2 separate regions of the Homo sapiens genome follow, and region 1 is linked to region 2. The links come from fine-mapping of genetic effects on gene expression. A gene starts in region 2. The other region holds a variant in brackets. All regions are shown on one strand. Distances are from middle to middle.

Region 1 (8,000 bases), 47 kb before region 2:
AACTTCCAACCTGCCATTGCGTGTCTGCTTTTGTTAGTATCTGTGTCTGCTCTGATGTTGCCGGGCAGGTGGGCCAGCACCCAGCTCCCTACATGTGGTTTCTGTTTTTTTTTTTTTTCTTTTTGAGACCGAGTTTCACTCTGTTGCCCAGGCTAGAGTGCAGTGGCGCGATCTTGGCTAACTGCAACCTCCGCCTCCCAGGTTCAAGTGATTCTCATGCCTCAGGCTCCCAAGTAGCTGGGATTACAGATGTGCACCACCACGCCCGGCTAATATTTGTATTTTTAGTAGAGATGGGGTTTTACCATGTTGGCCAGGCTCATCTCAAACTCCTGACCTCAGGTGATCCACCCACATCGGCCTCCCAGAGTGCTAGGATTACAGGCGGGAGCCACTACACCCGGCCCCCACATGTGGTTTCTAAAGGAAAAACTGCTTGGGCCAGACAAAGGGGCTCAATGTAAGATAACAGTCCTTTGAGCCCAATTTGAGAGCCAGTGACAGAACACACATGTGTACACACACACAGCCCTCCATACACTCTTTTGTTCAGAATTATATGCATTTATACTCCAGAAACACACCCACTCACCATTAACCATCAAAATCTACACCTACCAATAAAGAGCCAAAGTTCACACTTTGGCTGATCCCAGCTGCATTCTCCACTCCATCTCCTTGGCCCTCCTGCTTGCTCGTTCCCCTCCAGCACACCACAGACACTGCCTCAGGGCCTTTGCACAGTCTGTGCTTGTGCTGGGAATGCTTCCTCCAGGGATCTGCATGGCTCACTGCATCGCCTCTGTCAAACCTTTGCTCAAATGTCCCCTTGTCAGTGAAGCTGCCCTGCACACCCCCACATGCCCACTCCTCCCTCACTCTGCCGGGGTTTCTTTCCCCTTTTAACATGTTTCATACATTACTCTCTGTGTTTCTTGTTCACCACCTGTCTCTTCCCACTGGGATGTAAGCTCTGTGAGGGCAGGGTCCGTCGTTTTACTCACGGATGCATCCCAAGCACTAACACTGCCTGGAGAGCAGTGGCACTTGACAAATTCTTGTTGAGTGAATAACAGAATGAATGAACACCCTCAGACAAGCATCTTGCCTTACGGGATACGCTTTTACATACACATACTCCAATTTATAAAAACACTTAGCTCACAGAAGCATACTTGGACATAGAAGCAAAATCTCTCAAATAAAATCACAGAGAAATTGACCAGGTGCAGTGGCTCATGTCTGTAATCTCAGTACTTTGGGAGGCTGAGGCAGGAGGATCACTTGAACCCAGGAGTTTGAGGCCAGCCTGGGCAACATAATGAGACCCCACCTCCACAAAAAATAAAATTAGCTGGGCATGACTGCACGTGCCTGTATTCTCAGCTACTTAGGAGGCAGAGGTGGGAGGATCTCTTGAGCCTGGGAGGTCGAGGCTGCAGTGAGCCATGATCGCACCCCTGCACTCCAGCCTGGGTGACGGAGTGAGACCCTGTCTCAAAAAAAAAAAAAACAATTAATCACAAAGAAATTAAAATGAATATATGCTTCCAAGGCAGTAGACCGACTCCTGGGCAGGGCCCGGTGCAACTGTGTGGCATTGTCTGGGTTCCCCCAGTCCCCGAGACTCTCATAAGCCAGGTGTGGACTCTGCAGCTGCCCTGCCTGAGTGCCTCTGGTGAGGCCAGAGTGGGGTATGGGAGGAAGGAGCCCCTCATCCTCTCCCAGAATTAGCTTCCTGAGTCACCACCATTGCAAAATGGCTATGAAGAGCCAGAGGGGCTGGAGCTGTGGGGGCATGTCCAGAAGCAGGTGTTAGGGGAGGTATAGGACCATGGCCACATATGTCTGTAACACATGCTGCCCACGCAGGCCCTGCCAAGCTGTCCCAGGGTGGTGGGGGAGTGGATGGGCCACTCATGCCACTGCACACACGTGCACACACGCACACATGCACACAGACACATGTGCACATACACATGATCTGTAGTGTGTGATGTGGTCAGCACTGTGTTCCAGCAGGATCAGGAGTTTCCTGAACATCAGGAGGAAGGCTGCTGAGGTTGGCTCCCAGCCACCAGCAGTGCCATTACACCCACAGGCTGGCGCTGGTCACCCATGACAGGAAGGCCTGTGGGTGAGAGAGGGTGGAGGAGGGATCTTCTGGTGTCAATTTTCTTCCTTCCTCCTCTTCTTGCCTTTCTCTTCCGTCCCCTCCCTGCACCCCTTTTTCCCTGAGATCTCTCCTGTTGTTCATTCTCAGCCTTTTTAGACTCAGCTGACCCGGTGGCAGCTGTGCTGGGCTGTCCACACACATAGCATCATTTTGGTCTAGGAACCCAGAGGCTGCCTCTGAATGCCATTGACTGCCCTTTCCAGTAACACCCTTGGGTCCAGCAGTGGGCCTGTGCATGCAAGTGTGTGTGTGTGTGTGTGTGTGTGTGTGTGTGTGTGTGTGTGTGTGTGTGTGTGATTCCTCAGGGTCAGTGGATCAGTATTATCTGATCTTTCCTTGGATTCAGAGACTTCATGGGGCCCTTGGTCATGGGTAGATCTCCACTGTGCCCATTAAGAGGAGCAGTAGGGCCGGGCGCAGTGGCTCACGCCTGTAATCCCAGCACTTTGGGAGGCCGAGCGGGGCGGATCACAAGGTCAGGAGATTGAGATGGAGACCATCCTGGCTAACACGGTGAAACCCCTATTTAGTCTCTACTAAAAATACAAAAAAAATTAGCCAGGCGTGGTGGCGGGCACCTGTAATCCCAGCTACTCGGGAGGCTGAGGCAGGAGAATTGTGTAAACCCGGAGGCAGAGCTTGCAGTGAGCCGAGATAGTGCCACTGCACTCCAGCCTGGGCAACACAGCGAGACTCTGTCTCAAAAAAAAAAAAAAAAAAAAAAAAAGGAGCAGTAAGGGCCAGGTGTGGTGGCTAAAGCCTATATGGCCAGCACTTTGGGAGGCTGAGGCAGGCAGATTACTTAAGGTCAGGAGTTCAAGACCAGCCTGGTCAACATGGTGAAACCCCGTCTCTATTGAAAACACAAAAAATTAGCCAGGCATGGTAGCGCACAACTGTAGTCCCAGCTACTCAGGTGGCTGAGGTACAAGAATCACTTGAACCTGGGAGGTGGAAGTTGCAGTGAGCTAAGATTGTGCCACTGCACTCCAGCCTGGGCAACGGAGTGAGACTCCGTGTCGAAAAATAAATAAATAAATGAATAGGAAGAGTAAGAAGCTTCCTCCCCCTCCAGGCCTGATCTTTCTGAACTTCTTTTGAAAGGCACGGTCAGCTCTGGGTGTCACAGAATGAATCGTGCATTTGTGGAAGGGATTCTGGGGAGACTGAAGGTGAAGGAGTGCAAGGTAGTTAGGAAAAGAAGAAAGATTAATTCACATGTACACATAAGGGAGCCCTGGGTAGAAGTTTTTCTGCCAACCAGGCGTTGTTTCCTGCCAGCCAGGCCCACTTGGACGGGACAAACGAGTCCAGCATGCTGGGGATGTGTGTCACTTGTCCCTTGGTTAGGGAGTGCCTTTTTAAACTGGAACTAAGAAGAGTCAGCAGGACAGTATTCCTGATCGTTCATTCCCAAGTCCGGACAGCTGCCAGCTCAGGGTCTTGAATGTGGTCAGGGTCAGGACAGCGTGGCCAGGTGCTTCCAGGGAATCCTTGCCCATCGCCAGTGGCCCTAAAAGTTTCTGGGCCAGGGTATCCTGTTTCTCCTAGGCTGCTGCCACCTCCAGCCACAGTTCCTCGGTAAGACCCAGGGTAGCACCCTGGCAACCCCAGTTAAAACCAAAGTTAAGGCCAGGCACGGTGGCTCACGCCTGTAATCCCAGCACTTTGGGAGGCCAAGGCGGGAGGATCAC[A/G]AGGTCAGCAGATCGAGACCATCCTGGCTAACACGGTGAAACCCTGTCTCTACTAAAAATACAAAAAAATAGCCAGGCGTGGTGGCGGGCGCCTGTAGTCCCAGCTACTGGGGAGGCTGAGGCAGGAGAATGGCGTGAACCCGGGAGGCGGAGGTTGCTGTGAGCCGAGATCGTGCCTGGGTGACAGAGCGAGACTCCGTCTCAAAAAAAAACGAAGTTAAAAATGCAACTGGCAACTCAACCTTGAGAAAAACTGCTCATCTCCAATAATCACAAAAGGATTTGAATTGAAATAGCTACAAAATGTGAGGATTTTTTGGAGTCATAAAATTAGAACAGATGTTTAAAATGAGATCCTCAATACTGCCACAGGCACTGTGAGAGTGGCATTCTCCTGCGGCTTGCGCATGGGCAGGGGGTGGGGGCAGTTATTTTGGCAAATTGGGAGCCTTTCATTTCCTTTTTTGAGACAGAGTTTCACTCTTTCATCCGGGCTGGAGTGCAGTGCCATGATCTCACATGATCTCAGCTCACTGCAACCTTTGCCTCCCAGGCTCAATCAGTACTTCCACCCCAGCCTCCTGAGTATCTGTGACTACAGGTGCGCACCACCATACCTGGCTAATTTCTTTCTTTTTTTTTTTTTTGAGACAGGGTCTTACTCTTTCGCCTAGGCAGGAGTGCAGTGGCATGATCTCCGCTTACTGTAACCTCCACCTCCTGGGTTCAAGCAATTCTTTCACCTCAACCTCCCGAGTAGCTGGGATTACAGGTGCCTGCTACCATGCCTGGCTAATTTTTGTATTGTTAGTAGAGACGGGGTTTCACCATGTTGACCAGGCTGTTCTCAAACTCCTGACCTCAGGTGATCCACCCACCTCGGCCTCCCAAAGTGCTGGGATTACAGGCGTGAGTCACCGCGCCCGGCCTAATGTTTTAATTTTTTGTAGAGATGAGATTTTGCCATGTTGCCCAGGCTGGTCTCGAACTCCTGAGCTCAAGCTATATACTGGCCTTGCCTCCCAAAGTGCTGGGGTTACAGGTGTGAGCCACTGTGTCTGGCTGCCTTTTATTTCTTACCTTTTGACTCATTGATTCCACTCATGGCAATGACTTGAAACATAGTAAAATATTTCATACAATGATGCCCATCATAGCATTATTATAAAAGTGAAACGTTTGGCCAGGCACGGTGGCTCACACCTGTAATCCCAGCATTTTGGGAGGCTGAGGCGGGTAGATCATGAGGTCAGGAGTTCAAGACCAGCCTGACCAACACGGTGAAACCCTGTCTCTACTAAAAATACAAAAATTAGCCGGGCATAGTGGCACATGCCTGTAATCCCAGCTACTCAGGAGGCCAAGGCAGAAGAATTGCTTGAACCCGGGAGGCAGAGGTTGCAGTAAGCCAAGATCGCACCATTGCACTCCAGCCTGGGCGACAGAGCCAGACTCCACCTCAAAAAAAAAAAAAAAAAAAAAAAAAGCAAAACATTTGGAAACAACTTAAATGACTAATAGTCACTAGTTTAGAAAGGTCTTATGATAGTCTATCAGGCAACCATTCAACATGTTTATGAAGAGTTAATGACATAGGAAAATGCATAGAATGTATGTGAAAAAAGCCAATACAAATAAAATATGCAATAGGTTCTTAATTCTGTTATATATTATGCACAGAAGAAAGGAATTACATCAAAATGCCAATAACAGTTATGTTTGATAACAAAGATAACAGTGGTAGTGGTGGTGGTAGTGGTAAATCTTCTCTTCTCTATACTTTTCTATGATTAGTATGTATTATTTTATAACCAGAAAAAAGGTTTTATAAAAAAGAAAGAAAGAAACTTCAGTCTGAAATAAATGGCTAGTAAAGAGGGCTCCCTCCCACAGAGCTGTGCTGACCCTGGGTTCACATAGCAGGGACTGGGGGTGTACAAAAGGGGCTCCTGCTGTGCTGTTACTCAGTTTCCCCTCTGGTTAACCCTAGCTCCAAGCCGACACCCCTTTGTGCCCAGAGAGCCTGCAGCTCTGTGCCTCTCCCTCTGGATCCGCCTCCCCCTGCCCCCGCAAGTTGCTCACAGCCTCGGATTCTGCTTCATCAGTTCTTGGCAGCGTTTTGAGCTCTTACATCTTGGGCCCAAGCTGGAACAACCCCAGCTAAGTACTAAAGATGGGGAGCTGGAGCATCCAGCACCCTAGGGCTGGAGCCCAGATGGTACCAGGGCAAGGGCAGCCTGGGAGTCTCCAAGATGATTAAAAAGACATGGCTTCCTGGGCTCATGTCTGCCAGCACCAGGAGGTCTCATGAGAGTAGCAGCTGGTCTCCATTCTGCCTTCTGATGGACAAATGTATCCCTGACTCCTAAGCTGTGCTCTTCTCTTAGCCACCGAAGCTGGACTTCTCAGGGCTAGAGGACTTCCGAGTCCCACTTCACCCTTTTCCTTACAGAATTCGAATGTCAGGCATCAAAGGCCTGCAAGGGGTGGTGAGGAAGACGGTGAATGATGAACTGCAGGCCAATATCTGGGACCCACAGCACATGGATAAGATCGTTCCATCACTGCTTTTCAATCTACAGCATGTAGAGGAGGCAGAGAGGTAAGCAGGCCGGGATGGGGCAGGACAGTAGATATAATCAACCCTCCAAGGGCTGCTTGGGAACCACATGGTTTGGGTTGGTCAGTAAAACTCAGCTACAAGGCCAGGGACATGGCTTTGTGGCTTGTTCTGCAGTGAGTCCAAAGCTGGCTCCCTAGAAGCCATGGGTCTGACTTTGTGCCAGCCCACAGTGTCCCTTAACATGTGCGTTACCGAAGGAGGACAGTGTTGGTGCTGGGCTCCCTGGTGGGTAAATCTGTTGGTAATAACACACAGAACCAAGAGTCTGGTTACCTTTGTCTCCCTGGAAGCAGGGCCAAGGAGGCTTTAAGATGCCTTTTGTGGGCCGGGCGCGGTGGCTCACGCCTGTAATCCCAGCACTTTGGGAGGCTGAGGCGGGCAGATCACGAGGTCAGGAGATCGAGACCATCCTGGCTAACACGATGAAACCGCGTCTCTACTAAAAAAAAATGCAAAAAAATTAGCTGAGCGTGGTGGCGGGCGCCTGTAGTCCCAGCTACTCGGGAGGCTGAGGCAGGAGAACGGGAGCCCGGGAGGCAGAACTTGCAGTGAGCCGAGATCGCGCCGCTGCACTTACAGCCTGGGCGACGGAGCGAGACTCCGTCTCAAAAAAAAAAAAAAAAAAAAAAAAAAAAAAAAAAAAAAAAAGATGCCTTTCATGGCTCCGATCACTGCGGACTTTCCATCTGGACCTTCCTTCCTCTGTTGCTTCCTGATGCTATTTCAGGCCCTGAAAACGTGCATGCTTGACCAGCCCGCAGCCACTCAGTAAGAGCTTGCAGATACTGGGTTTTAATCCTGGATCCCCTAAGCATGGGATTCATTCCTGTCCCTGCACCCTCATTTTTCCCCTCGGTGAAATGGAATGGGGAGAAAGGCCCACGTTGCTGTCCCACCTGGGCTATCTGTGCACTAGGCTAGTTAGGTCGGTTGATCCCAGGCTACTAGAGCTAGACTCGGGTCGACGGGGGCGGGGGCGGGGGCGGGGGCGGGGGCGGGGCGTGGGGTGGGGCGTGGGGTGGGGTGGGGTTCGTATGCCATCTGGTGGCTGTTTCTGGAATAGCATCTCACTGACAAGCTGCTGTGGTCTCTGGGCTGGGAGTCCTCCGGCTCCTGTTCTGTCCAGATGTGGGCCCACTCCCTGTGACTTGAGTATCATTGACTCTTGCCTGAGCCAACCACTGTGCCTTTCCTTTTCCCTCCCTCTCTTTCCTCTCCTTTCTTCCACTTCTGTTTTGTTTTTTGCCTCCCTTTCCTATCTTCATCTCCCATCTCCTTTTCCTTCTGAAGTCTTAGGTGCATCAAGACACACATGTTCTACACCTCACCTGGCCCATGGGGCTCAGAGCATCCTTCCCACAGTGGTACATCTGGAAATCTTTAAGGATTTCCAGAAAAAGAACTTTATCTTTTCTTCTCCGGTCTTCCCCCACTTCCCCCAGTGGGGGCTTCTTTACCCCCATTTAATTTCTGACAGCTGTGACGCCTCCCCTATTGCCTAGTGCAA
Region 2 (15,579 bases):
ACAATTACTTTAATGTCCATGACAAGGTAAGGCTAAGCTCCTAACAGAGAACTTTCCTATTTCACTACATTAAGCTGTAGTTCTAACATGCAAGATCTCAGGAGTGAAAGTAACTTGGGAAAAACGGAGGACCCTGAAACTCCTGCTCAAGATGGTCTTTTCCCTTTTTATTCCACCAGGATCCTATCATTCCTCTGAAACTCTATTTCCTATGAATATTAGGTTGACAGAAAAGCAAATAAAACCACTGGCCAATTTAGGCAGCATTTCGAGCAGCCTGATTTGATGTCCTGCACACAAATTACTCTGGTGATCACTATTACCCAGACTCCAGTAACTTTGGAGAGCTTCGTTTTTAAAGCAGATCTCAGTTCTTTGAAATCTGGCTCATCTTCTGGACACGTCACGTGTCAGATGTCTTGTTCTCTAGAGCTCTCAAATGTGGTCTGAAATGGCAGGATTTGAAGAGGATGCAGATGTGGAGGGGAAAGAGACCAGAAGGGAATTACCTCCTGGTGGAACAGCCACTGCAGATACTTTTGGAGAATCCAGCAAGTGCCTGTGGGCAGAAGCTGAGGTCAAGACACCAGGGGACAGTAAGGAGGGGGCATCCATGGTGCCCCTAGCCCCCTGTACCCACCCCTCTCTCCAGCACTACCCTCGCACTGCCAAATTTCCCTTAACCAGGTGGGCCCCCTGAAGCCACCTCGAGGCCGGAGATCAGCTCACCGCCAACCCTACAATCATTTTGGATTTCAGAAGATCTTCTCAGCCAGCTGCTAGAAAGAAATGTAATTAGATGAGAAAAGTAATTCACATTAAAGCGTGGATGACTAAGTGTCTTGTCACTCCTAATGAACGCTGGCATTTTAAAATAAGTTTGCCTAAAATAAATCTCTCATTTGGGGAGGCGTGGGCCAAATCTTTTTTATATAGGGGAGGCTTTGGAAGTGAAAGTCCTCTGAAGCGCTGATTTCTACTTCAGGAGGCCACTTCCTTCTCTCTACCCCACCCTCGCCCTATTCCCCAGGCGCTGGGCCTGCACGGTGCTAGCTTCTGAAGGGTTGCCGGGCAAGGCTGAGCATTTTCAGAGCAGCCATTAGATGGCACTGGCAGCCAGTGACTGGCCCAGGTGCGCTTCGGCTAAAGGGGCAACTGAACGAGCTTTGGTCAACCTTGGTGTCCTCTCCTGGCTCCAAGGGACAGGCTGTTCCCATTGTACCCTGCCAGTGATCTATTCAAGTACACAGCCAGAACTTGGTGGACCAGGCAATTAGATTAAAGCTCCAAGTTGACCATAGCACATTTAGCTCTGAAAAATGCCCAGATGTTACAGTCACAGAAAAATGGTAGTTACGTATGTCACCAAATGCAAATGTAAAGTAACATATTAGTAAAGGAAAAAACAAAATCTTACAGGTCTGATAGTTCCCTCAATTATATTTCAATTCTTGTCAAAGATAACTACTCTGGAGTGATTTCCATTTGCTAGAAGCAATGACTTCAGGCCTTCCTGGAAAGCCCCAGAGAGCATTTCCCCTCCTTATGCCCTATGTGCTGTGTTGTACAATGTGGTAACATATTCACTCCCACCCTCTCAGAGCTTATATTCTGTTGCTAAACTGGTTAGATGGCTGCTATTGCTAAAACTTCAGATTCTTCCCTGAAAGATGGTCTTGTGTTTGTATTGTATATTTTGCTTATGTGTATGTGTATTTGCTTATGTGTATTTTCAGTTCTCTACAATGAACAAATAGTACCTTTTGTGTCATTTTTAAAGCAACAAATTATTGGGGAAATATCAAATGTTGTGCTTTTTTAAGTAGGGAAAGTATTATAATCCAAAAATGGAAAGCTCTGGAAAAATAGAAACTTGAAATTTGCTCATCCTGAGATTAACTTTATAGTAGAACTACACTTATTAGAACTTCATAGGTGTGAGGGGCTCTCTATGAGCTCAACAAATCATTTTGCTTGTTACTGTAAAACTGCACGCTGGCCATGACCTTTTGTAAAGATTAGAGGAGCACAGGGGCCGAGTTTTGTCCTTACACCATGACATACATGCATCGAGTCCTATAACAAAAGCATCAAAGGAACAGTAAGTCATTAAAGTGGCCATAATCTGTGCAGAGTTTATAAACTGACACACACACAAAAAAAATCCACACACACTTTTATTTTCCTTGGCTCCTTCCAGCCATTCTGTAAGAACCCTCCCTGCCCCATTTAAACATGAAGAATTTGGGGAATCCAAATGCCAAGTGGACTGTCTCTCCTTCGCTGGAAACGCCCCTTACCTGAGCCTTGATCATTCCAAATGGCTGCCCGTGCCCTCAACCCAGGATCTGCGCCATAAACCGTCCACCCCGGTTCTGTTGAGGGCATCCGAAACTAGACAGTGCGTTTCAGGATCTAGGACAGCTCCCGCCCCGGCCACCTGTTTTTAACCCCAGCTAGGTCTTGGAGAGAAGAGACCCAACTATTCTGCATTGTAATTGACCCAGTTATCATGTAATTATCATAGCGCGGCCACCTCGGGTGCGCTAAGGTGGGCAAGGAAACAAGGATTCAGGGGTCTGAATCCGAAAAAATCCGGAAGGCAGGGCGTTCATTATGACTTTTATCCTTTTCTCTGCTGCCCCGTTTCCAACATTAATTTGCGATAGCGTGTATGGAATTTGACTTTCAAGATGTGACACCTATCCTGGAAACTGGGAGCAAGAGATACTAAAAGACCGGGCTGGCCGGGGGCGGTGGCTCGCGCCTGTAATGCCAGAACTTTGGGGGGCCAAGGCGGGCGGATCACCTGTTGTCGGGAGTTTGAGACCAGCCTGACCAACATGGAGAAACTCCGTCTCTACTAAAAATACAAAAATTAGCCGGGCGTGGTGGCGCATGCCTGTAATCCCAGCTACTCGGGAGGCTGAAGCAGGAGAATCGCTTGAACCCGGGAGGCGAAGGTTGCGGTGAGCAGAGATCACCCCTTTGCTCTCCAGCATGGGCAACAAGAGCGAAACTCCGTCTCAAAAAAAAAAAAAAAGACCGGGTTGTCCCAAGACCTCCTAGCAAGCTCTCGGAGCCTCCGGACCGCCGCGAGCCCCTGGGGGAGAGGAGGCCGCCGGCTCCCTGGAGACAGCGCCTGCAGCTTCGCGGCCGTCCGCCCAGGGGCCGGACGTGGGCCCTCCAGCTCAGCTACTGGCGGCTTCTCATGCCGCAGTCGGCGCAGAAAGTTTGTCGAGAACTCGGGACCGCGGAGAGCCAGAGGCGCCCAGGTCCGCCTTCGGAGCCGGAGCCGGCCGACTGCATCGCGAGGACGGGGACAGGGGATCCCGGGGAAAGAGCACGGGTCCCCCACGCTGCGCCCTTACCTGTCTCGGGAGGCTGCTCTCTGAGGGCGGGGACGCTCGGCGGCCTCTCTCGGTCGCGGCTCTTCTTCCCCTCCTTCGCCGCCGCTTGGTCCCGCGCTCCTCTGTCCTTATATACTTGCCGAGCTCTCCTGGTGGGCGCGGGACTTTGACCTTCCCGGCAGCACAAGGAGCAGCTCCCCGGGCCAGGGGAAGGGGGGCCGCGGGGCGTGGGAGGGGGGCTTCCAGACGGGGGACGAGCGCGGGGAGACGCGCTGGAAAGGGGCTGGAATTAGCACTGTCCTGCCGAAGGCGCACCTGGCCGCTCGCCCTCAGGAAGAACTTAATTATGGATGGCGTTGGGTCTCCGCTTAGAACGGGCGGGAGGCTTAGCACCCCCGTGTGGGGCAGGCCGGGCAGCCTCTGAGGTCGTTGAGGCGAGGGTGAAGTTACCTGCGTGCGTGCTGGGGCTGGCATCTGCCTGGTTCGCATTTGGCGGTAAATATCACCGTCTGCACACGGGGAGGCCTCCGATTTCCCCATTGTTTGGAAACTGTGATGTGGAAGTCGTGGGGAATCATATTCTCTCTGTTCCACTTTGGGGAGGGGAGGAGGGAGCAGAAGTCAGGAGCCGTCTTGTGGGTGTGAAGGTGAGTTGCACTGCTCCCCTGGGGCCTGCTCTCCAAGGGCCTGGTTTAGGGGAGGCTCCCTTCCGTGTCCCAAGCCTCAAGGAAAAAGTCCTGTTAACCTAAACCATTAAATGGGGAGAGGGTGATGCTGTGAAGAGCAGCTGAAGTGCTTTCCCTGTGGCCTCTGATCCCTCCCTTTGCCATGAGCTGGCAGGGTGGTCTGGGGACTCAGACAATTTTCAACATCCCCCTTGGCCCTGGAGTTCTGGCTTGGCTTTAGTTCCAAATATCAGACCAGAGAGAAGAGTACAGCACTCAAACCAAGCTAAGAGACTCTACCTTAACCTGGAGTAAATAAACAAAACCAAATTGTGCGATGTGGTGGGTGTGGGAGGGAGTATTGGGACTAAACTGGACTTCAAATCAAGACACTTGCTTAATCTGCCAAATGCCAGAACTTTCCTGATTCCCCATGAGATGCTCTTTTGGACTCCAGGACTCTCTTGTGGATTCAGCTTTTCTGGTGACATTGGCTTTACATTCAGCAATCCTTTCCCTTTGGACCACAAGAGAGATCCAAGCTCCGTCACAGTAGACAAGGTGCTTCATCACCCGGCTTTGGCCCCTTTCCAGGGCCATTTCCCAGTTCTCCACCTTGCATCCTGGCACTTCAGCATCCACAACATTCACACTGCTAGAACATGGCTTTCTTGGGTCTCCATTGTCCAAGCTGTTCCCCCAACTAGAACATCCTTCCTCTCTCCAGCCATCCAGGAGCTTGACTCACATCAAGATGTAGCCCATCCATCAGCCCCTGTTCTCTGAAGCCCTCTTTGGCCACTTTTCCTACCAGGGGCATGAGGCATGACCTCCTCTGCCTTCCACAGAAGTCCATCCCCATCTTGTCAGTGCAAGTGGCTTGCACTAATTCACTTCTGTCCCCATTTTTTTAATCTTCCATCCACCCCACGACCACCATCAGGTTTGTAAACTCTTTCAAGCAGATGGTGGTTTTGCCTTATTTTACTTTGTGTTATTTTTGTAACTTCAGGAGGCTGCTGGTGGCAGCAGATAAAACAAACCAGGAAAAATCCAAATGGACCCAACTTCTTTAACTGGGTTCCTTCTTTCTTTTCTTCTCTCTCTCTCTCATTCTGTTTGTTTGTTTTTGAATTAGGGTCTCACTCTGTTGCCCAGGCTGGAATGCAGCAGTGTGAACACTGCTCACTGCAGCCTCCACCTCCTGGGCTCAAGTGATCCTCATGCTTCAGCCTCCTGAGTACCTGGAACCACAGATGCATGCCACCATGCCCAGCTAATTTTGGGTTTTGGTTTTTTGTTTTGTTTTTGTTTTTGTTTTTGGTAGAGACAGGGTTTCACTATGTTGCCTAGGCTGGTCTCAAGCTCCTGGGCTCAAGTAATCCACATCAGTATCCTGAAGTGCTGGGATTACAGGTGTTAGCCACCACACCCAGCCCAGTTTCTTAATTTAATGCAGCAGAACCTGCTTTGGCCTCCATGAACTGAAAGGCCATTGAACTGCATTTAGAATCACTGGGTAGGCGGGGCACAGTGGCTCACGCCTGTAATCCCAGCACTCTGGGAGGCTGAGTTGGGCAGATCACGAGGTCAAGAGATGGAGACATTCCTGGCCAAGATGGCGAAACCCCGTCTCTACTAAAAATACAAAAATTAGCCGGGCGTGGTGGCGCACACCTGTAGTCCCAGCTACTCGGGTGGCTGAGGCAGGAGAATCGCTTGAACCTGGGAGGCGGAGGTTGCGGTGAGCCGAGATCGCGCCACTGCACTCCAGCCTGGCGACACAGCAAGACTCCATCTAAAAAAAAAAAAAAATCACTGGGCAGGTTGGGGGACCAGGATCTAAAAATGGGCAGGGACACAGTGTGGCTGGAACCATGGCCAAAATCACATCCAGTGGAGAAAAAAAAAACAGACCACAAGGGGCCACAAGGGGCATGTCAAGACCACAGGCGTCTGACATAGACGTCACTTCTGTCCCCAGGATGGGACGCTGCCATTCTCACTTCAGCTAATGCCACTAGAAAGGAGTCACCACTGCCCTTGCATCCTTGTACCACTAGCTCCTCTTTGAAAGCCTAGAACAGGTGCCTTTGATTGTCTGACATGACATAATTTTTCACCTTTATTCTAGTAATGTGGTGAATTATTGCATTGTTGATTTTTTGGTGTTAAACCTACCATGGCTTCTTAGATTAAACCCAATTTGATTATGATGTATTATCCTTATACAGAAAGCACTGGACTCAATTTGCTAATATTTTATTTAAGACATTTGCATTGATGTTCATGAGATGGGCCTGTAATTTTCCTTTCTTGTGGAATTCTTGTCTAATTTGAGTATCAAAAAATTATGCTGTTCTCATAAAACAAGTTGGAAATCCATCTTCCCTCCCCCTTTTTATAATTAAGTAGAATAATTTGCGTATAATGGTGTTATCTCGTCCTTAAATGTTTGGGATGATTCACCAGTGATGCCATCTAAATCTTTAAGATTGTTTGTTCATTGAAGTTTTTAATTACAGAATCAATCCTTTCAGCTGGAGCTGGAAAAAAGAAGGAAAAATGTTTTAAACCATTACAAATTCAATTACTTAAGTGGCACTATTTCAATTGTCTACTTCTTCATGTGTCAGTTTGAGTCAGATATGTATTTCTAGGAATTTGTCTATTTCATCTAAATTCTTTAATTTATTGGCTTAAAATTGTTTATTATATATTTTAAGCATCTGGGATCTGTGGTTTTGGCCCTTTTCATCTCTGATATTGGTTATTTGTGTTCTCTTTTTTCTTGATTCATTTTCTTTTTTCTTTTTGAGACAGACTTTCACTCTTATTGCCCAGGCTGGAGTGCAATGGCATGATCTCGGCTTACTGCAACCTCCGCCTCCCGGGTTCAAGCAATTCTCCTGCCTCAGCCTCCCAAGTAGCTGGGATTACAGGGATGTGCCACCACATCTGGCTTATTTTTTGTATTTTTAGTAGAGATGAGGTTTCTCCATATTGGCCAGGCTGGTCTCAAACTCCTGACCTCAGGTGATCTGCCGGCCTCAGCCTCCCAAAGTGCTGGGATTACAGGCGTGAGCCACTGTGCCTGGCCTCTTGATTAGTTTTCTTAGGGTGTTATCCATTTTATTAGTCTTTTTAATAATCCATTTTGGTTCTGTTAATTTTCTGTACTATATGTATACTTTTTTATATTTCTGAAATTTTTACTCTTATTATATCGTGCCTTCTACATCTTTGGGTTTAATTAGCTATTCTTTTCCTATACTCATGAGTTGGACATTAAATAAATACTTTTACTTAGATAATTGATATTGAACCATTTTTTTCCTTTTTTTTTTTTTTTTTTTTAATATTGCCTTGACTCATCTTCAACTCTTGGGCTCCAGTGATCCTCCCACTTCAGTCTCTCTAGTAGCTGGGACTATAGATGCATGCCACTGTGCCCAGCTCCTTTATTCTTTTTTTACATATGTATTTATGGCTATATTTTCTTTCTAAGTACAGCTTTATATGCATCCCACAACTTTTGATATGTCATATTTCAATTACCATTTGTTCAAAATATCTTTTTATTTTCATTGAGATGTCTTCTTTGACCTATAGGTTATTCAAATATATTCTGCTTAACCTCTAACCCTTCCAATTCATATTACCAACTTAGAAAAAAAAGAAAAACTTCTAAACCTTGGGGATTTTCCAGTCATGTTTTTAAACTAATTTTTTGCTTAATTCCCTTGTAGTCAGAGAATATGCTCTGTTTGATTTCAGACCTTCGAAATTTTTTGAGGCTTGCTTAACAGATAAACATAGGGCTCATTTTGATTAGGGCTTCCTGTGCACTCCAAAAGAAGTGTCTCACTGCACTGTATTCTGTGACTGTATATTCTCAAATATTCTATATCCTTTCTCTACCTATATCCTTGCTATTTGTCGTCTTATTCTATTAGTTACTGAGAAAAGTATGCTTTTTAAATCTCCTCACTATTTTTGTGCATTTCTCCATTTGATCCTGGCATAAAAACAGCACAACTCAGCCGGGCACAGTGGCTCACGCCTGTAATCCCAGCACTTTGGGAGGCCGAGGCAGGCGGATCACCTGAGGTCAGGAGTTCCAGACCACTGTGGCCAACATGGTGAAATCCCGTCTCTACTAAAAGTACAAAGATTAGCCAGGCATGGTGGCGCATGTCTGTAGTCCTAGCTACTCAGGAAGCTGAGGCAGGAGAATTGCTTGAATCCGGAAGTCAGAGGTTACAGTGAGCCAAGATCATGCCACTGCACTCCAGCCTGGGCAACAAGAGCGAGACTCTGTTTCAAAACAAAACAAAACAAAACAAAACTCTATGAACTGAATGGTGATTGTGGGTGGAGGGTAATGTTGGATCAAGGATAAAGATGGCAGAAAGGGCCAGGCGTGGTGGCTCATGCCTGTAATCCCAGCACTTTGGGAGGCCAAGGCGGGCAGATCGCAAGGTCAGGAGTTCGAGACCAGCCTGATCAACATGGTGAAACCCCATCTCTACTAAAAATACAAAAATTAGCCAGACATGGTGGCTTGCACCTGTAATCCCAGCAATTTGGGAGGCTGAGGCAGGAGAATCGCTTAAGCCTGGGAGGCGGAGGTTGCAGTGAGGCCATTGCACTCCAGCTTGGGCAACAGAGCAAGCCTCTGTCAAAAAAAAAAAAAAAAGGAAAGAAAGAAAGAAATAGAGAAAAGAGAAAAAAGGAAATTCTGAAATCTGGCCTGGCACGTGTGACCACGTGACCAGTTCCTTCAGAAGGCAGTTCCACTGCCCGGAATGAATCTCCTTAGCTCTTGGTTCCATCCTCTGGGCTCTTGGTTCCATCCTCTGGGCTCTTGGTCTATTCTCTGTGTTAGCTTTCCTTTTCCATAATAGCCAAGATTTGCACCTGAATAATTTTCTTGCTTGCTTCCTGCCTATGGTATTTCAGGGGCTCAAAAGCTTCTTTTTGTTTGTATACTCCAGCTCGACCACTATCTGTCATATGGATTAAAGGAGGCAATTCATGTAAAGATCTTAGAGCAGGGCCTGGTCCCTAGTTAGTCCTGTACAACTGCTAGCCCTTAACTTTAATATTATGGGAGTGTTGGTGAGAAGGGAGGAGGGAAGAGGAAGGAAGGAAGGAAGGAAGGAAGGAAGGAAGGAAGGAAGGAAGGGAGAGAGGGAGAGAGGGATAGAGGGAGGAAGGAAGTAGAAGGAGGGAGGGAAGGAAAGAAGGCAAGGTTGGAAGGAGGGAGAAAGAGAGGGAGGAAGAAGCAAGGAAGGGAGGGAAGGAAGACATAAAAGAAGGGAGGAGGGAAGGAAAGAAGGAAGGAAGACAAGAAGGAAGGAGGGAGGGAAGGAAGAAAGGAGGGAAGGAATAAATGAAAGAAGGAAGGAGGGAAGAAAGGAGGGAAGGAGGTAAGACAGGAGCAGACACAGGGTCTTTTGGACAGGGTAGCTGATGGGTTTGTTGGGAGACCCTGCTTGTGAGGACTCCTGGGGCCGGGGCGATGCACCTGCACCTGGCTGCGGGCGTGCCAGGTGGCTGTAGACGTAGGGCTGGGGCTGCTCTCATCATCTCAGCTTTTCACCTTTGAGGTTTTAATTGGAAAAGAGATGTCACCAGGGTGTGAGTGCGTTACAAGGGCAGGTGCAGGGGAGGCTGATGACTGAGAGGACAGAAACAAGGACAGGGTGGCAGAGCCCAACATGGGGCAGGGGATAAGGAGGTACAAGGAGGGTGGCCTCGTTGTCAGCCTCCAGGCATTGGGACTGGCAATGGGGGACATTACCCTGGGAGAAGAGAAGACTTAGGGATGAAGCTGCCTCATGTCTGTGGGGGACTTTGCTGGAATAAGCACCAATTCATGCCTTAAGGGTCTGAACGAGGAGCCCCAGCTCCACCTTGGCACGCCCTTCTTCATTCTCTCTCCATAGTCTCCATGGACAAGCTGGGGGCAGCTGCCATCCCTGTCTCATGGAATAACAATTGTCCCTTCTCGGAACTCCTTAGGCTCAGCCAGGGCCTCTTCATTCCTGCTGTTGTTTGGTCTAGAGGGGCCCTTGGGCTGCTCAGCTGGTGCCGGTTGCCTCTAAGGGCACAGCTCCCATAATCAGTGCCTGGTAGAGAGTTGGTGCTTGAAAAATATTTGTACAGCAAGGGTAGGAGGGGATGAATGAGGAAGGGAGACCCTCTCCCTCTTAACCCTCAGTTTGCAGAAACTCATGATTCTCCAAAACCCTCTTTGTCAGAGGCGTTTGAACCAGAGCAACTCCATCTTGAATAGGGACTGGGTAAAATGAGGCTGAGACCTACTGGGCTGCATTCCCAGATGGTTAGGCATTCTAAGTCATTGGATGAGATAGGAGGTCGGCACAAGATACAGGTTATAAAGACCTTGCTGATAAAACAGTTTGCAGTAAAGAAGCCGGCCAAAACCCACCAAAACAAAGATGGCCACTGAGAGAGTGACCTCTGGTCCTCACTGCTACACTCCCACCAGCGCCATGACAGTTTACAGATGCCATGGCAATGTCAGGAAGTCACCCTATATGGTCTAAAAGGGGAAACATAAATAATCCACCCCTTGTTTAGCATACCATCAAGAAATAACCATAAAAATAGTTAACCAGGCCAGGCGTGGTGGCTCAAGCCTGTAATCCCAGCACTTTGGGAGGTCGTGGCAGGTGGATCACGAGGTCAGGAGTTCAAGACCAGCCTGTCCAAGATGGTGAAACTCTGTCTCTACTAAAAATACAAAAATTAGCCGGGCGTGGTGGCAGACGCCTGTAATCCCAGCTACTTGGGAGGCTGAGGTAGAGAATTGCTTGAGCCTGGGAGACGGAGGTTGCAGTGAGCTGAGATCACGCCACTGCACTCCAGCCTGGGCAACAGAGTAAGACTCTGTCTCAGAAAAAAAAAAAAAAAGTTAACCAGCAGCCCTCCAGGTCGCTCTGCCTATGGAGTAGCCATTCTTTCATTCCTTTACTTTCCTAATAAATAAACTTGCTTTCACTTTAATCTATGGACTTGCCCAGAATTCTTTTTTGCGTGAAATCCAAGGACCCTCTTTTGGGGTCCGGATTGGGATTCCTTTCCAGTAACATCTCCGTACTCCCTCTGTAGGACACATGAACCTGAAACAGGGAAGTGCCTCCTCTTCATTGTGTCTGAATGAGAAATAGCCCAGTATCTTCCCCTTTATGTGGGCATTCAAGAATCGTGAGCACTTTCAAGAAATCCTAACTACCGCTAAAATTGCACTGGGGCTCAGAAAATTATACCCCAAAATATGGAACTAAAGAAGCAGCTTCAGTTCCTTTGAAGAACCTTCAAAATCTCGCCCTGACCTTCCCCTCACTCCCTGTCTCTCTGATTTTTTCCAAAACACCAGAAGGTACTGTCTTTGGCATTTCCATATCTGACTAAGGAAACTTCTTTCTAAAAGAAATACAATTGCCTGAAGCCTCCCTTCATAGGAATCTCATCAAATAACCAGGAAAGAAAGATTAACCACCTGAGAAGAGACGGATCATCACCGCCTCCAGACAGACTTTTCTTGCATTTTTCTGAGGGCAACTCCAAGAGATAGCCTAGGGGGGTTACCTGCATAATAAGACAGGCTGCGTTCACAATGACTTTCTGCTTCTCACCTTCACACCACCTACCCAAAGAACAGAGAAGAACTTTGTCCCAGGCCATTGTTCCTCGGGCGCATTCACTTTCCCAGAAAATCATTTACTCCTATGCCCCTCATTTTCCCTTCCCCTATCAAGAAATATCTGCAGGCATCTGGACCTCATTGAGTTACTGGGTAATCATTCTCCCACCATTCTGCTATGCTATACACATGAAATTAATTTGTATGTCTTGTTCCCCTATTAATCTGTCTATTAGCAGTTCATTTTCAACAAAACTTCAGAGGGCAGAGTGAAGGAAGGAAATTTTCTCTTGGCACCCACAATTGTCAATAGAAACCCTAATTAAGCATCCCTCTGAGGGGAGCCTGATGTGGTTTGCAGGGCAGACAGGGAGCTGCCTCCAGAAAAGGGCCTGAAGCCTGAAGCACTGCAGAGGAGAGGGTTACTGGTGCCCCAGATGGCCCTACAATTCAGGCGGATCCCACTGCCCCGCTTCACCCCTGCAACACGCCCTCCCCAGTCTCAGCCTTTTCATTGAGCTTCTCTCATGCAGCACTGCAGCTGGGCTACTTCACCAGCCTTCGGTTTGACCTCAAGGGCAAAGAGGAATCAATTTGTGCAGAGAACTGGAATGAAAGAGATTTCAATTGACCTTTGAATGGGGTTTTAATTTGCTTTATTCCAGCCAAAGGGACCTCGTGAAGAGACCCTTGAGACTGCTTTTATCCACTAATGCGCGCATTAGTGCAGCAGCCTGGGCCAAGGTCTGCATGGTCTGGGTGCCGCAGAGCACAGTGGGGAGGGCCAGAGTCCATGCCCCTCCCTAGAGCAGGTTGTCAGCACCCTCAGGGTCCAAAGCAGAGTCAAGAGTGGAGGAAGGGCCTAGGTAATATGGTGGAACCCCATTTCTACAAATATATATATATATATACACGTATATACACACACATACAAAAATTAGCCGGGCATGGTGGCACACGCCTGTAGTCCCAGCTCCTTAGGAGGCTGAGGTGGGAGGATCACTTGAACCTGGGAGGTGGAGGCTGCAGTGAGCCATGATCATGCCACTGCACTTCAGCCTGGGCAACAGAGCCAAACCCTGCCTCAGAAAAAAAAAAAAATAGAGTGGAGGAAGAAGCAGTGGGAGGGGGTGAGGTGACCTGGGTTCTAGCCCCAGCTCTGTGGCCAGCAGACACAGGGACCTGGGTCAGTCACTCCCCCCACCCCCACCCCACCTCCAGGCCTCAGCCCCCTCATTTGAACAATGGGGGCGGGGAGGATGTGGTCCGTTTCAGGCCTGTCATTCTATGATTCTAGGCTCAGATCTAGAGTCAAGCTCTGTGATTAAAAAACAAACAAACAATAGTCTTACAGAACGTGGCCCCTAATGGGCACAGCTGAGTCCTCTGGGCTGAGGAGGTAAGCTCTGTCCTTCTGTCTCTTGGGCCTTTCTCGTGTCCTGTTTCTCTCTGAGAATCTGCTCCAGTCTGCACACATGGGCAGGCCAGTTCTCTGCTCTGTTCACTCTGAATCCCAGAGGAAACTAATGGGGCCACTAATTACCAGCACTCCTGCTGCAGGCAGCCACCCATGGGGTCCAAGTGGCCTGTGGAAAGCCAGCCCTGATCAAAGAGCCCTCTGCAGCCGCTCCTCACACAGAGCCAGTTCCATGGGACACCCCAGTAGAGAGCCTGTAAGTTTGTGTGCACAGTCCTGCATCAGCAATGGCAGGTTCTCTCTTACCCTGAGCTTATTACACCTGGGTATATTGCCATGTGGAGCCACATGTATTCTTTTAGAACCACTCCCTTATCCCAAGCCCTTTTTTCACAATGAAGGCTTGCGCCTCTGCAATCCAAGTAGACTTCCTGGAAGTAGTGTCTTTGCTGAAGATGTTGTGGACATAACAGACACACCAGGCTCTGCTAGATGACGTCCCTGCTGCCGCTCTTTCCAGACAGAGCTCAGGTGCCAGCGGCCACCATTCTGACTCAGCGGTGGTCATAATGGTCCTTTTGTGGGGGACAGGCCTTTGTTAGGGGCTCGAGCATGACTGCTACTTTTCCAGAAGAATGCGGAGTTCTCCAGCCAGCAGTTGAGGTAGGGAGAGTGACGTGGTGGCCAGGAAGGACGCCACTAATGCACATCCATTAGTGAGTGCATCACAGGGCGGCATTCAGAAGCTTCCGAGCGGTCCTCCTTCCTCCAGACCCAACAATGGCTGCGTGGAGGGGGCTTGAAGTGGCCTTTTTACAGGCACTCAGCTCAGTCTCCCTCTCCAGCCCCCGCCCCCGTTAGGTACCCATCTTCCATTTCCATGCCTGCTGCTCAAAGGAATGGAGCAGCCAGGACAGCGAATCCAGGCAGCCCACCTGCGGCCCGGAGAGCCCCCACTGTGCCCTCAGTCCCATTGCCCCAGGAGAGGGACACCAGGCTGGGCAGAGCTGGTGCACAGTGACCTGCTATGCAGCAGCTCAAAGAGCCCATGACTCTGTGTGTGTCTGTGCATGTGCATGCACGTGTATGTGTGTGTGCATGTGTGTGTGTGTGTGATGGGAAGGGTGCAACGACTCCTGAAATGGGTTTGAAAGGTAGTTTGGTTTGTTTTTAACACGCTGTCCAAAGCCTTTATGTCCAGTTGAAAGTGATTCCTTTCCCAGCATCCCCCTAGGCAGCTGTTCTTGGTGCCATTGAGGGGCTGGGGCTGGAGCCTTTGGCAGACCCCTTAGGGGAAATGCTTCCAGACCAGGTCTAATCCGCCTGAGAAGGCCAGTCTCTGACTTCAACATCTCATTTCAAAAAACATGTATTCGCTGGGCATGGTGGCTCACACCTATAATCCCAAAACTTTGGGATGCCAAGGTGGGTGGATCGCTTGAGGTCAGGAGTTTGAGACCAGCCTGTCCAACATGGCAAAACCTCATCTCTACTAAAAATACAAAAAATTAGCAGAGTGTGGTGGTGTGTGCCTGTAGTCCCAGCTGCTCAGGAGGCTGAGGCAGGAGAATCTCTTGAACCCGGGAGGCGGAAGTTGCAGTGAGCCAAGATTGTGCCTCTGCACTCCAGCCTGGGTGACACAGTGAGTGAGACTCTGTCTCAAAAAACAAAAACATGTATAAATTATGTTCTTTTAATTTATCCTTTATATTATCGTTCAACCTTTAGGTTGAAGTTATTTTTCTATGTATTATGAACATGAGAAGGTTATATTATCAATGAATTTCATTTCAAGATAATAAATAAGGTCTCACTACTTATTTATTTACTCTTGAAAGGGTATTTTGCTGCTGATGGGAATGTAAAATAATGCCACTTTGTCAAAGAGTTTGGCAGTTCCTCAAAATGTTAAACATAGAGTTACCATATGACCCAGGAATTCCCTTCCTAGGTATATACTCAAACATTTTTCCACACATTTTGATAAAATTTGTATGCTCACAGATGCATTATTCATAAGAGCCAAAAAGTGGTAGCAACCCAAATGTCTACCTACTGATGAATGGATAAATAAAAAGTGATATATCCATAAAATGGAATATTATTTGAGAACAACAAAAAAAAAAATGAAATACTGGCGGGGTGTGGTGGCTCACATCTGTAATCCCAGCACCTTGGGAGGCTGAGGTGGGTGGATCACCTGAGGTCGGGAGTTTGAGACCAGCCGGACCAACATGGAGAAACCCCATCTCTACTAAAAATACAAAATTAGCCGGGCGTGTTGGTGCATGCCTGTAATCCCAGCTACTTGGGAGGCTGAGGCAGGAGACTCGCTTGAACCCAGGAGGCAGAGGTTGCAGTGAGCCAAGATCATGCCATCGCACTCCAGCCTGGGCAACAAGAATAAAACTCCGTCTCAAAAAAAAAAACAAAAAAACAAACAAACAAAAAAAAAGAAAAAGAAATGAAATA

The links. PIP is the estimated chance that this variant, and not a neighbour inherited with it, causes the effect.
Region 1: its variant is fine-mapped to the expression of POMC in whole blood (TOPMed, PIP above 0.99).

The regions. Positions count from the first base shown.
Region 1 is chr2:25,121,861-25,129,860 of GRCh38, forward strand. It overlaps EFR3B (EFR3 homolog B), which reads left to right. Exons shown (of 23, transcript NM_014971.2): 6 at 6,323-6,472. Among named protein-coding and RNA genes, the nearest start is that of POMC, 43 kb to the right of the region's middle. RefSeq lists an enhancer at 2,034-2,203. The variant A/G (reference allele first, on the strand shown) is at 3,871.
Region 2 is chr2:25,165,127-25,180,705 of GRCh38, forward strand. It overlaps POMC (proopiomelanocortin), which reads right to left and starts at 3,454. Exons shown (of 3, transcript NM_000939.4): 1 at 3,372-3,454. RefSeq lists a promoter at 3,328-4,140, cis regulatory regions at 3,479-3,491, 3,557-3,730, 3,731-3,756 and enhancers at 3,551-3,570, 11,805-14,560, 13,432-13,933, 13,934-14,433.